Regions from separate parts of the Homo sapiens genome. Here all the other regions are reported to be linked to region 1. The links are microRNA targets in miRTarBase. Many come from high-throughput screens and were not tested one by one. Region 1 holds a microRNA gene; each other region holds the end of a gene's coding sequence.

Evidence for each region. Region 1 holds the annotated microRNA hsa-miR-770-5p (UCCAGUACCACGUGUCAGGGCCA, at 1,743-1,765, shown strand). A microRNA usually pairs through its seed, bases 2 to 8, with sites in the 3' UTR of a target mRNA and lowers its output. Matches are read on the target gene's strand: a 7mer-m8 pairs with bases 2 to 8, a 7mer-A1 pairs with bases 2 to 7 and ends in A, and an 8mer does both.
Region 2: miRTarBase lists TOP1MT as a target of hsa-miR-770-5p. Seed matches in the 3' UTR shown: 7mer-m8 at 2,685-2,691.
Region 3: miRTarBase lists ZNF548 as a target of hsa-miR-770-5p. The part of its 3' UTR that is shown has no 7-base or 8-base seed match.
Region 4: miRTarBase lists RCOR3 as a target of hsa-miR-770-5p. Seed matches in the 3' UTR shown: 7mer-m8 at 1,950-1,956.

The regions. Positions count from the first base shown.
Region 1 is chr14:100,850,667-100,853,815 of GRCh38, forward strand. MIR770 (microRNA 770) reads left to right here and starts at 1,724; the gene lies at 1,724-1,821. The region is part of intron 9 of MEG3 (maternally expressed 3); the gene reads left to right.
Region 2 is chr8:143,306,691-143,309,690 of GRCh38, forward strand. It overlaps TOP1MT (DNA topoisomerase I mitochondrial), which reads right to left. Exons shown (of 14, transcript NM_052963.3): 14 at 2,634-2,853. The coding sequence ends at 2,751. Among named protein-coding and RNA genes, the nearest start is that of ZNF696, 17 kb to the left of the region's middle. RefSeq lists enhancers at 616-1,116, 1,117-1,617.
Region 3 is chr19:57,399,480-57,402,479 of GRCh38, forward strand. It overlaps ZNF548 (zinc finger protein 548), which reads left to right. Exons shown (of 4, transcript NM_001172773.2): 4 at 1-3,000. The coding sequence ends at 410. Among named protein-coding and RNA genes, the nearest start is that of ZNF17, 10 kb to the right of the region's middle.
Region 4 is chr1:211,313,453-211,316,452 of GRCh38, forward strand. It overlaps RCOR3 (REST corepressor 3), which reads left to right. Exons shown (of 12, transcript NM_001136223.3): 12 at 1-2,933. The coding sequence ends at 316. Among named protein-coding and RNA genes, the nearest start is that of TRAF5, 12 kb to the right of the region's middle.

The DNA of each region.
Region 1 (3,149 bases):
GAAAGAAAGATGCAATTTGGGAAGAAATGAAAAAGAAATGAATAAAGAATAAAATAATGTAACGGTCAATAAATAGGACTTGTGAATGGAGGCCTTTAGGCCAAAGGCTATGATTAATTTCAAGCTATGTTACTGAAGTCCATAAACAAAGGACTCAGATCTAAATGGATGAACGAATGACTGGAAGAAAGGGTGGTAGGAAGGTAGGAAGAAAGGAAGGAGGGAAAAAGGGAAGAGAGGAAGGAACCTTCTTTCCAGTCCTGTGTTCTAGACAGTGGAATGAAGTGGTCCCCAGGGAGGGTGGCTGTAGGCATGTCATGTGCTTGTCACATGCACTTGCCCTGGCAGGGAGGAGCTGGCTCAGGAAGACCCTGGTCTTGGGGTGCTGTTGCCCTATCTTGGCTGTGTGGGCCATTTCACTGCATCTGTCTCTTCCTCAGTTTCCCCATCTGTAAACCTGGAGTGGCACCAGCTGCCTACTAGAGTTGATCTTATGTGTCTCTGTTGATGGTACCCCATCTATGGCCTGGATAGGCAGGAAGGGCTTGGACCCTGAGCCCCGCAGAAGGTTGCATGAACGAGTGGTGTGAAGCCTGTTGGGTAGCTTGGCCACTCCCGCGGCATGGGTCACCTGCACAGGAGGTTTTGCCCACCAGGGGGCAGCAGAGGGTCAGGGAGCAATAGGCCCTGGGTGGAGCATGGGCCCCGCCTGCTGTGTGCCACCCTGGGTGTGGCACCTACTCACATCCAGGGGTTGGTGCAGGGAAAGGCCAGAAGGTGGCCAGGCGCACCTGAGAAGGGGGACCCAGAAGCCCCGGGACCCAGGAGCCCTGGGCAAGCCACCAGAAACCTTGTTCTTGCAACTCTCTGCAGTGTGCCCAGGCCACCCTCTGGCCTGGTCTTCCATGGGGCAGGGCGCCCACCCTTCTCAACTCAGGTTTCCCTGGGCAGCAGGTGCACCTCAGCACCCCTGGGGTTGCAGAAGTGGTCCGGGGACCCTGGCTTCCTTGACATGCCATCCCCAGAGCCTGGTTCAAGGCCTCTCTGTCTTCTCGGCTGTTTCACGACGTGTTTTGTAACTTGGCGGGATTGCGTTTCGCTGTGTCGAGGTTGTCTCTTCTCTGACTCGCCCTCCGGGGGACTGCCGGGGTAAATCTGGAGAGTTGCTCGTGCTGACAGTCCTCCCCCAGGGCCTCCCCGGTTCTGTTGAGTCTCCTTTCTCTGTAGTGGAGGAAATGTGTGTAGTTTTGTGTTGTGTGCCTGTGTTTGTCTGTAAAAGCAAGGACCAAAGTCTCCCTTGTTGACCTCTCAATTCCTATTTGGGACATATAAAAACACTGGATTCTTAACAAGCGCCCGGAGCAGTAGGAGCACAGCTTGGATGGACTCAGGACTTGTGGCAGGGAGCACGTGGGAGGCAGGGGAGTGGGGTGGGGCCAGGCCATCTGGAGTGGGAGGCGTCATGCTCAGAGTGACTCTGTAGACGCTGGGTGGGATGGGGAGTGCGGGCGCAGGCATGGATGGGGCTGTTAGCTAGTGTGATGCTTGAGGTCTGAGCTGATGGCAGCAAAGTGGGGTGCTCAGGAATCAAAGCTATGGGGTTATAGACAGGATATGAAGGAGGGAGGGAGGCAAGAAGAAGGGGGTGGTTCCCACGCTTCTAGCTCCGGCCGAGTGGATGGCAACAGCATTTGGAAGGCGGAGGACATGGAATTCATGTGTCAGGAGCCACCTTCCGAGCCTCCAGTACCACGTGTCAGGGCCACATGAGCTGGGCCTCGTGGGCCTGATGTGGTGCTGGGGCCTCAGGGGTCTGCTCTTCTTCTCTTTCAGAATCTGGGGCTCCAGGCTATGCCTTGGCTGGACTGAGGTCTGGGGGTGCACTTATTATCCCTGGGGACACCTGCTGAAGCTTCTCCCTGACAAGCTGTGTCACTGTTGGATGAGGATGGGGCGGGAGGGGTTCAGGGCAGAAGAAGACCGGGAGGGTCTTTCAAAAGAACTCATGTACGGCTGTTAAAAAAAGTCAGCAGAGGCTCAGGAAGACTTAAAGTGTGCAGAAGGCGGGGAAGGGAGGGCCCATTGCATGCACCAAGAGGAAATTGGAAGGAACAAGCGACGTTGGCTGCTAGGAGAGCCTGCTCCCAACATCTAGGGGCTGTCCTGACGGGTCACAGTGGGTCGAACTGAGCCAATGAGAGCAGCTCTGGGGAGACCCACTGGTGCCCTGGAGGCTGGGTGGGTTTGGGTTGGATGAATTCTGTGTGTCCTTTTGGAAATGTGGAGGCCATGAGGGGGGATCAGGGCTCTTAGGGTTTTGACCCTTAAGAGTTTTGTATCTGTAATTCAAAGGTTCTTTAGTTCTGGGATGCTGAGATTCGGGATAGGGTTCCTAATGGCACAAAAGCCAGAGATAAAACATCCTTCACGTGCTCCCTACCCGGTTCTTTCTGTACCAGACCCACAAGGTCCGAGTTGGGATCCTAGTGCTCCTGTCTGGTCAGGGCCTATCTTTATGTGTTCGTTAAACTTTTAACAATGAGAATTAATTCTGTCTCTTGACATTGTCATTTGCATGCTCCCCACACACAAATCCTTTCCTGGTGACACCAGGAGCTACAACTCTCCTTGGCCTCCTCTTGTGACTCCCAACTCCCTCCTTGGGAAGCTTGGCCTCAGGACCTCTGGGATAGACAGGCCACGAATCCTGCTGTGTCCCGTTGTGTTCCTAATATAAATGGTGTGGATGGCACTTGACCTAGAGCAGTGGGAAATGCATGCACCACTCAACATTCTGACATGTCACCCATTTTACATTCTTACAGGCATACTTTTTTTAAAAAAAGAGTGTCTATTCTTTAATGAGCATCCCTTCTTTAAAAAAACCTAATTGCCATTATTCACCACATACACTTTTTTTTTTTTGTATCCTGCCTCTTCTATTTAATTTTCTGTCATCAACATTTTCCCTTGTTCCATGAATCTTCATAACCTCACTTGCTGCGTTGTGCCTTGTTGAGTGGCTATGGCATCATTCACAGAACCATTCTGTTATTCTTATGTATAACCACCTTTTAAAAATATTATGAATAATGCCACAACTAACTGCTTAAAACACCCTTTTTTTCATTCTTAAGAATTATGTTCTT
Region 2 (3,000 bases), not on the chromosome of region 1:
CACCCTCAGTGGTTTCCCTTCTGGAGTCTGGGCCTGCTCGGCCAGTGCCCTCATTTTCTGTGGAGCTGTTCCATGTCTGGGCACAGAAGCACCTCTCTGGGAGCAGGTGGGGACGTGAGAGCCCCCTGCTGGAACTGTTCTGTCACAGGCCCCGGGAGGAGCTGGACCTGCTGCCGGAGCCCCTTGGGGCAGCGGGTGAGCCGCGGTGTGAGAGACTCGGGCCTGGAGCACCAAGGGCCCCACAGCAGGAGGGATGGGGGTGCAGCCTCCAGGGCGCTGGGGTCCTCTTGGCTGACCAGGAGCCTTACACAGGGGCTGCCTCATGGGGTTGGCGGGAGCCCCGGTGTGAGGGAGACAGCCACAGAGGCAGCCCCGAAAGCAAAGCGCGGAGCAGATGGCAGAGGATCCCACGTGGCAGAGGAGAGGGCAGCAGAGGATCCCACGTAGCAGAGGAGAGGGCGGCAGAGGGTCCCGTGTGGCAGAGGGCAGCAGAGGGTCCCACGTGGCAGAGAAGAGGGCGGCAGAGGGTCCCGCGTGGCAGAGGATCCCACGTGGCAGAGAAGAGGGCAGCAGAGGATCCCACGTGGCAGAGGAGAGGGCGGCAGAGGGTCCCGTGTGGCAGAGAGGGCGGCAGAGGGCCCTGCGTAGCAGAGGAAAGGGCAGCAGAGGGTCCCACGTGGCAGAGAAGAGGGTGGCAGAGAAGAGGGCAGCAGAGGGTCCTGCGTGGCAGAGAGGGCGGCAGAGGGTCCCGCGTGGCAGAAGAGAGGGCAGCAGAGGGTCCCGCATAGCAGAGGGCGGCAGAGGGTCCCGCGTGGCAGAGGAGAGGGCGGCAGAGGGTCCCGCGTGGCAGAGAGGGCAGCAGAGGGTCCCGCGTGGCAGAGGAGAGGGCAGCAGAGGGTCCCGTGTGGCAGAGAAGAGGGCGGCAGAGGGTCCTGCGTGGCAGAGAGGGTGGCAGAGGGTCCCGCGTGGCAGAGGAGAGGGCGGCAGAGGGTCCCGCGTGGCAGAGGAGAGGGCGGCAGAGGGTCCCGCGCGGCAGAGAAGAGGGCGGCAGAGGAGAGGGCAGCAGAGGGTCCCGCGTGGCAGAGAAGAGGGCGGCAGAGGGTCCTGCGTGGCAGAGAGGGCGGCAGAGGGTCCCGCGTGGCAGAGGAGAGGGCGGCAGAGGGTCCCGCGTGGCAGAGGAGAGGGCGGCAGAGGGTCCCGCGTGGCAGAGGAGAGGGCGGCAGAGGTTCCCGCGTGGCAGAGGAGAGGGCGGCAGAGGGTCCCGCGTGGCAGAGAAGAGGGCGGCAGAGGAGAGGGCGGCAGAGGAGAGGGCGGCAGAGGGTCCCGCATGGCAGAGGATCCCACGTGGCAGAGAAGAGGGCAGCAGAGGATCCCACGTGGCAGAGGAGAGGGCGGCAGAGGGTCCCGTGTGGCAGAGAGGGCGGCAGAGGGTCCCACGTGGCAGAGAAGAGGGCAGCAGAGGGTCCCACGTGGCAGAGAAGAGGGCGGCAGAGGGTCCCGCATAGCAGAGAAGAGGGCAGCAGAGGGTCCCGCGTGGCAGAGGAGGGCAGCAGAGGGTCCCGTGTGGCAGAGAAGAGGGCGGCAGAGGGTCCTGCGTGGCAGAGAGGGTGGCAGAGGGTCCCGCGTGGCAGAGAAGAGGGCAGCAGAGGGTCCTGCGTGGCAGAGAAGAGGGCGGCAGAGGGTCCCGCGTGGCAGAGAAGAGGGCGGCAGAGGGTCCCGCGTGGCAGAGAGGGCGGCAGAGGATCCCGCGTGGCAGAGGGCAGCCGACAGGCAGCTCTGAGAGGATACAGGGTTGGGAAGCTCAGGCAGAAGGCCATCGTAAGAGCTAAGAGCTACGTATGGAGAGTGTGGAGGTGATGAGAACTGAACGGGGGCCGCTGGGCTTAGTGACCAGGCAGCAACTGTGCCCTTGCTGAATTCCAGGCGCTAAAGAACTTGGTGAAGAGTCCGGGCCCCGCTGAGAGGGTGGCGCGTGCGCAAATGTGGAATCCTCACCCAAAGTCCTCAGCCTCAGAGCACACGAAGGTGTTTCTCCTCCCCTGTCGAGCGGGAACCGGGGGTCCAGGCTGGGACGCTGATTGGATGTGACAGCCCAGCAGACTCCATGCTCGGGGTGGAGGCTTCAAAGGACACGGCAGGCGTCAGGGACTTTTCTTTCTCTTTGAGATGGGGTCTTGCTCTGTTGCCCAGGCTGGAGTGCAGGGGCGCAATCACAGCTCATTGCAGCCTCAATGTCTGCTCAAGCAATCCTCCAGCCTCAGGCCTCTAACATGCCAAGATCACAGGTATGAGCCACTGTGCCTGGCCTAGGGACTTTTTCTTTTTCTTTTTTTTTTTTTTTTGAGACAGTCTCACTCTGTCGCCCAGGCTGGAGTGCAGGGGCACGATCTCGGCTCACTGCAAGCTCCGCCTCCCGGGTTCACGCCATTCTCCTGCCTCAGCCTCCCGAGTAGCTGGGACTACAGGCGCCCGCCACCACGCCCGGCTAAGTTTTTTGTATTTTTAGTAGAGATGGGGTTTCACCGTGTTAGCCAGGATGGTCTCGATCTCCTGACCTTGTGATCCGCCCGCCTCAGCCTCCCAAAGTGCTGGGATTACAGGTGTGAGCCACCGTGCCCGGCCGGCCTGGGGACTTTTTCTAGTGATGTACAAGCACTTGCACACATTTTATTGTACAAAATTCCCCAGTACTGCTTTAATAGTGAAAAAAACACACACACATACAAAAGAAGTTTCAACACGGCTCGTCGTTAGAATTCAAAGTCTTCTCCTGCCATGGCGAGAGCCCAGGCGAACCTCTCCCGCTGTGTTTTGCTGTAGATCTTCTCCACTGGCACCCTGAACCGCTTGCACCTGCGGGAGGCAGCATCAGCCCAGGCAAGCAGGCAACTCACCCACCTTGAAGGCCAGGTCAGGGTGCTCGGCAAGGGCGAGCGTCCTCCATGCAGCAGAGACACCAGAGCCGCCTGGTGTAGCTGGGACCTGCTCCTCTAGGCCAAC
Region 3 (3,000 bases), not on the chromosome of region 1:
GTGGGAAATCATTTAGGTACCACTGCAGGCTCATTAGACACCAGAGAGTCCACACGGGAGAAAGGCCTTATGAGTGCAGCGAATGCGGGAAATTCTTTCGTTACAACTCCAACCTCATTAAACATTGGAGAAATCACACTGGAGAAAGGCCTTACGAGTGCAGAGAGTGTGGGAAAGCCTTTAGCCACAAGCATATACTTGTTGAGCACCAGAAAATCCACAGTGGAGAAAGACCTTATGAGTGCAGCGAATGCCAGAAGGCCTTTATTAGAAAGTCTCACCTGGTTCATCACCAGAAAATCCACAGTGAAGAGAGGCTTGTGTGCTCCATGAATGTGGGGAATTCTTTAGCTAAAACTCCAACCTCATTAAACATCAGAGATTTCACAATGGAGAAAGTTTACCATTGACTATTGTAATTGGGTAGTAATGTTATATAAATTCCACATTTTTATGCAACTAATCTCCAGAACATTTTTCCTCTTACCAAGAAGTAAAATGCTGTACCCATTAACAACAACTCATTCCCCTTCCCTACTTCCCCAGAAATGTCTCAACTATATTTCTATACTCTATGGTACTTATATGAGGTACCAATAGATATCTATGAATTTGATATATATTTGTACCTCATATAAGTGGATTCTACAGTATTTATCTTTTGAGACTGGCTTATTTCACTTAGGATAAGGTCTTCACGGTTCACCCATGTTGTATAATGTGTCAGAATATCCTTCCTTTTTAGGTGAAATAATATTCTATGGTATTTATATACCACATTTATTTATCCATTCATCTGTTAGTGGATACTTGGGCTACTTCCACCTTTTGCCTATTGAAATAATGCTGCTATGAAGATGAGTGTACAAGTGTCTATTCAAGATTCTACTTTCAATTCTTATAGGGTATATACTCAGAAATGGTGGTGCTGGATCATATAGGATTTCTATTTTTTTTTTTTGTTTGTTTTTGAGACAGAGTCTTGCTCTGTCACCCAGGCTGGAGTGCAGTGCTGTGATCTTGGCTCACTGCAAGCTCCGCCTCCCAGGTTCATGCCATTCTCCTGCCTCACCCTCCCGAGTAGCTGGGACTACAGGTGCCTGCCACCACGCCTGGCTAATTTTTTTGTATTTTTAGTAGAGACGGGGTTTCACCGTGTTAGCCAGGATGGTCCTGATCTCCTGACCTTGTGATCTGCCTGCCTTGGCCTCTCAAAGTGCTGGGATTACGGGCGTGAGCCACCGCGCCTGGCCAGGATTTCTATTTTTAATATTTTTGGGAAAATTTTTCCATAGTACCTGTGCCATTTTACATTCCCACCAGCAGTGCACAAGGATTGCAATCTATATACATCCTCACCAACATTGTTCATTTTCTATTTCTGTTTTTGGGGTTTTTTGTAGTGCCTTTTGTTTTGGATAGCAGCTATCTTGTTGGATGTGAGGTGGAATCTATAGTGTCTTTCATTTTTATTTTGTGAATGATTGATGATGTTGAGGATCTTTTCATGTGCTTGTTAGGCATTTGTGTATCTGGAAAAATATTCAAGTCTTTTTTTTCCATTTTTAATGGGACTATTTGCTTTTTGTTGTTGAGTTGTAGTTCTTTATACATTCTGGATATTAACTCCTTACCAAATATATGCTTTTTACATATTACCTCCCAGTCCATAGGTTGCTTTTTCGCTCTGTTGATTGTGTCCTTTGATGAAATTTTAAGTTTTGATGTACTGTTGACTCTTTCTGTCTGTGGGTTCTGTATTCATGGATCGAAGCAACCATGGATCAAAAGTATTTGGAGCATCCATGGATTGCAGTGATCATTAATCAAAAATATTTGGAAAACAAAAAGGGTAGTTGCATCTGTACTAAACATGAACAGACATTTTTTCTTGTCATTATTCCCTAAACTATATAGTATAATAAATATTTACATAGCATTTACATTGTATTAGAAGTTATAAATAACCTAATGATAATCTATATAGGAAGATGTGTGTAGGTTATATTCAAACACTATGCCTTTTTATGTGAGGGACCTCTTGAGCATCAGATGATTTTGGTATCCACAAGGGGTCCTGGAATCAGTCCCCCACAGACACCAAGGGATGACTGTAGTGCATTTTATCTATTTTTACTTCTGTTACCTGGGCTTTTGATGTTATATATTAAAAAAAATTAGTATCAAATCCAATGCCAAGCATTTTCCCTATGCTTTATTCTAAGAATTTTATATTTGAAGGTCTTACATTTAGGTCTTTTTTTTTTTTTTCTTTTGGAGGCAGAGTCTTGCTCTGTCACCCAGCCTGGAGTGCAGTAGTGGAATCTCAGCTCACTACAACCTCCGCCTCCTGGGTTCGAGCCATCACCCCACCTCAGCCTCCCAAGTAGCTTGGATTACAAGTGTACACCACCACACCTGGCTAATTTTTGTATTTTTAGTAGAGATGGGGTTTTGCCATGTTGGCCAGGCTGGTCTTAAACTTCTGGCCTTAAGTGATCCCCCTGCCTCGGCCTCCCAAATTGCTGAGATTACAGGCAGGAGTTGTAATGCACTGTGCCTGGCTACATTTAGATCTTTAATCTACTTGGGGTTCATTTTTGCATATGGTTTAAGGCAAAAGTCCACTTTATGTGGCTATCCAGTTTTCCAAGCACCATTTTTTGAAAAGAGCATCTTTCCTCTGTTGAGTAGTCTTGGCACACTTGTCAAAATCATTTGTCCATATATGCCATGGTTTATATGTGGATTCTCTATTTTATTGGTCATATGTCTGTCTTTATGTCAGTACCACACATTTTAGGTGTGTGTGTGTGAGACTCAGTGTTGAGGACAAGGCTAGTGGGCTTTCACACTCCAGACTGCTGTATTCCAGCCCAAATTACTCAAATTAGCCAATCCATGGGGAACATGGAAAACGTAGCTAATGCAATCCGCTTGCCTTACCTAAGTTGTCCCCTGCAGCCTCAGGTTGCTGTTACTGTGTTTCAGATGCAACCC
Region 4 (3,000 bases), not on the chromosome of region 1:
GGGTCCATCACCTCCTGCCCCATCATCCACTCCAACACCAACAGCCCCTATTGCCACTCTGAACCAGCCTCCACCACTTCTTCGTCCAACACTGCCTGCTGCCCCGGCTCTTCACCGGCAGCCTCCTCCACTCCAGCAGCAGGCTCGGTTCATCCAGCCCCGGCCAACTTTAAATCAGCCTCCACCACCTCTTATTCGCCCTGCTAATTCCATGCCACCCCGTCTAAACCCAAGACCGGTGTTGTCCACGGTTGGTGGTCAACAGCCACCATCACTTATTGGAATTCAGACAGATTCACAGTCCTCACTGCACTAAAAATTAAATTGGACACAGCTGCAGTAACTTTTCACCCCATCATTATACCAGTGCTCATCTGACTGATGAAAAAGAGGAAAGAATAATCATTTCTAGATACTGAGGCTGCGAACTAGTTCTGTGGCAGTGGACTAGCATAAGTGGATGTCTAAGAAATTTTTCAGTTCACTAGACTAAAATGTTTTACAACAAAAAGCCTCCAGTTAGCCTCCTTTCTAGAGTATATGTTCAGCAATGTTGATCTCATAAAAGGAAAAACAAAAGATTTAAGTATTCTATATACCAAGTTTTTGTTTTGTTTTTACTGTATTTATTTTATTGAGGTTCTTTATATTCCTGCCTCTTCATAGTCAAGGCTCTTAGTACAGGAATATTGACTTAGGAATTGTGAAAACTCCTTAAGTTTCTTAAGTTAAGGATGTTTGGCTTTTTTCTTTAATTTTTTAAAAACCATTTTCCTATGTTAGGAGTGCAAGAATAGCCAGCATTTCCGATTTTGACATATGTTCATTTTATGCATATTTAAGAAATTATAGCTGCATATCCCTTCTTTCAAAAAATGTTGCTTTTTTTTTTAAAGGAATTTTAATATATTCCTTTAAAAGAAAGCAATTTAATCAATTGCAAAGCAATTATATAAAACCACAAAGAATGTACTGAACCTACTAACCCTTTAACATACAGTTTAGGGTCCTAGCGCAGAGTCCTTGTTTAAAGGTCATTGACTCATCATCTGTCAGTAATGAGAGGATTGGAAGAATAATTTTGCATACAAATGAGGACTTAATTTGTTGAAATATAATCTCTTTAAGTTCCTTGAAAATGGAGTTGGTTTTTTTTGTTTCTAAATGCTATCTGCTTTTAACTAGTAGTTGCCTACATCTGGGGACTTCAGAGAAGAATTATATTTTGTTAGTTAAGTAGACACAGTGGTTATGGAAGCATTTCTTTACAGTACCCTTTACATGTTTGGTTTCTGAACTTAAAATTGCCCTCATACTTAATAATATGGTCTGCATTTAATATGAAAGGTGTTTTATTGATAAATCTATTGTACTATTTGGATACATTTGTGTATTCCTTGCAGCCAACCTGTATTCGTGGGATTGGTGTAGGGTTAAATCATCAACATTATTTCATAAAATAAGAATTTGTTCTGTGTTATCTAAAGATGTATCAGTATATTGTCACAGTTGTGCTGTTAACTAAAAATGCTGAGACCCCTTTTTATAGAAAAACAAAAAGACATCAAGTCTTCTTAATTCAACCCATAATCATTAAGTACTTAACAAAGAATATTTTACAAGTGATAGTATTTCAACAATGTGTAATTAATATTTTTGATACAGTGATTTCATATTGGAATCATTATTTGTGCAAAGGGACAGACAGATCACTTAGATTGCTATACTAGTGGACATAGGCTACATGTTTGCACATTCACATTCTTATCACGTGTAGAATACTTCACAAAATAGTCAACATCTAAGGCCCTAATTTATGTTTTGAAAGATCATGTGTTCCCAAAGTATTCCCTATTGTTGGCTCCACAGCCTTAAAGTGCTATAGATTTAAATTCATTGATTAGTTTTAATTTTTAATTTTAGACTGTGTATTTCCATAAATACCCTACGTACTGGCATATTTGAAACTCTTTTTCCAGGTTAGGTCCTTTTCTTTCTCATTGAATCATCTTAAATAGTTCTTGGCCCTGAATTTAGCTGATTTAAAATTCTTAATATTCAAGAATTTATACTTATTTTTTCCTTAAAAGCCACAGGGGACAGTTAAATATCTTAAAATATCTAAAACATTTTTTAAAGCACTTAGATTGTCTTACGTATGTGCATACTATACCTTTACAGCGTTTATTGTCTTGTCTCTTGTCAGTAGACCTTCAGTACACAGTATGTGGGATATGTCAGTCAAGTTGGTCAGCACCAGCATCTGTCCAGCTGTTCAGTATATTGTGATTCATTAAAAAATCTCTTCTATCCCAGACATGGGCCAAGGTGCTGTATCTGAGGGATGTGCTGTAATTTGATTTACATGCATTAGAGCACACAGTAGAAAAACTTTAGCTTCATTAGTAATATGACACATGTATATAGTGAGATGTCTTTATTGTGTGCTTTGCATATTTTGTAAATATTTTGCACGTCATTATTTTTCTTTTTTGTTTAAGCAGTGTTTGGCCTGGAAGAGTGATATGCTTGCTGCTTAATCAAAGGATTAAAGATTTAAAGATGTCTATGTCTTCTATTTTTATATAATTTCATGTTCTATGAGGAATTTAGTACCTCTTCACTGTGAAATTCGAAATAATGATTTTTATAAAAGCAAAACTAGAAATCTTTTAATGACAATTTTCATTAATTTCAGGGTTATCATTTTTGAGAAATCTACACCAAAGTGGTTTTTTAAAATTACATAACTAAAAATAAACCACACTGTGGATACATCTTATAAAACTAATGGAAACAATGTTTTTCTATATGATTTAATTCTAGTGTAATATGGATGAGGTAAGAGTAAGTTATGATCAAACTTTTTATGTTCTTAATAAGCTTGCAATTGAGTAAAATAGAATATAAAATAAAGGTGAAATAATATAAAATTTTGTCTTAATGTAGGCCTACATTCTTTTTAGGAATAGATGTAGAGAGCAAGCCAAGAACGTGACT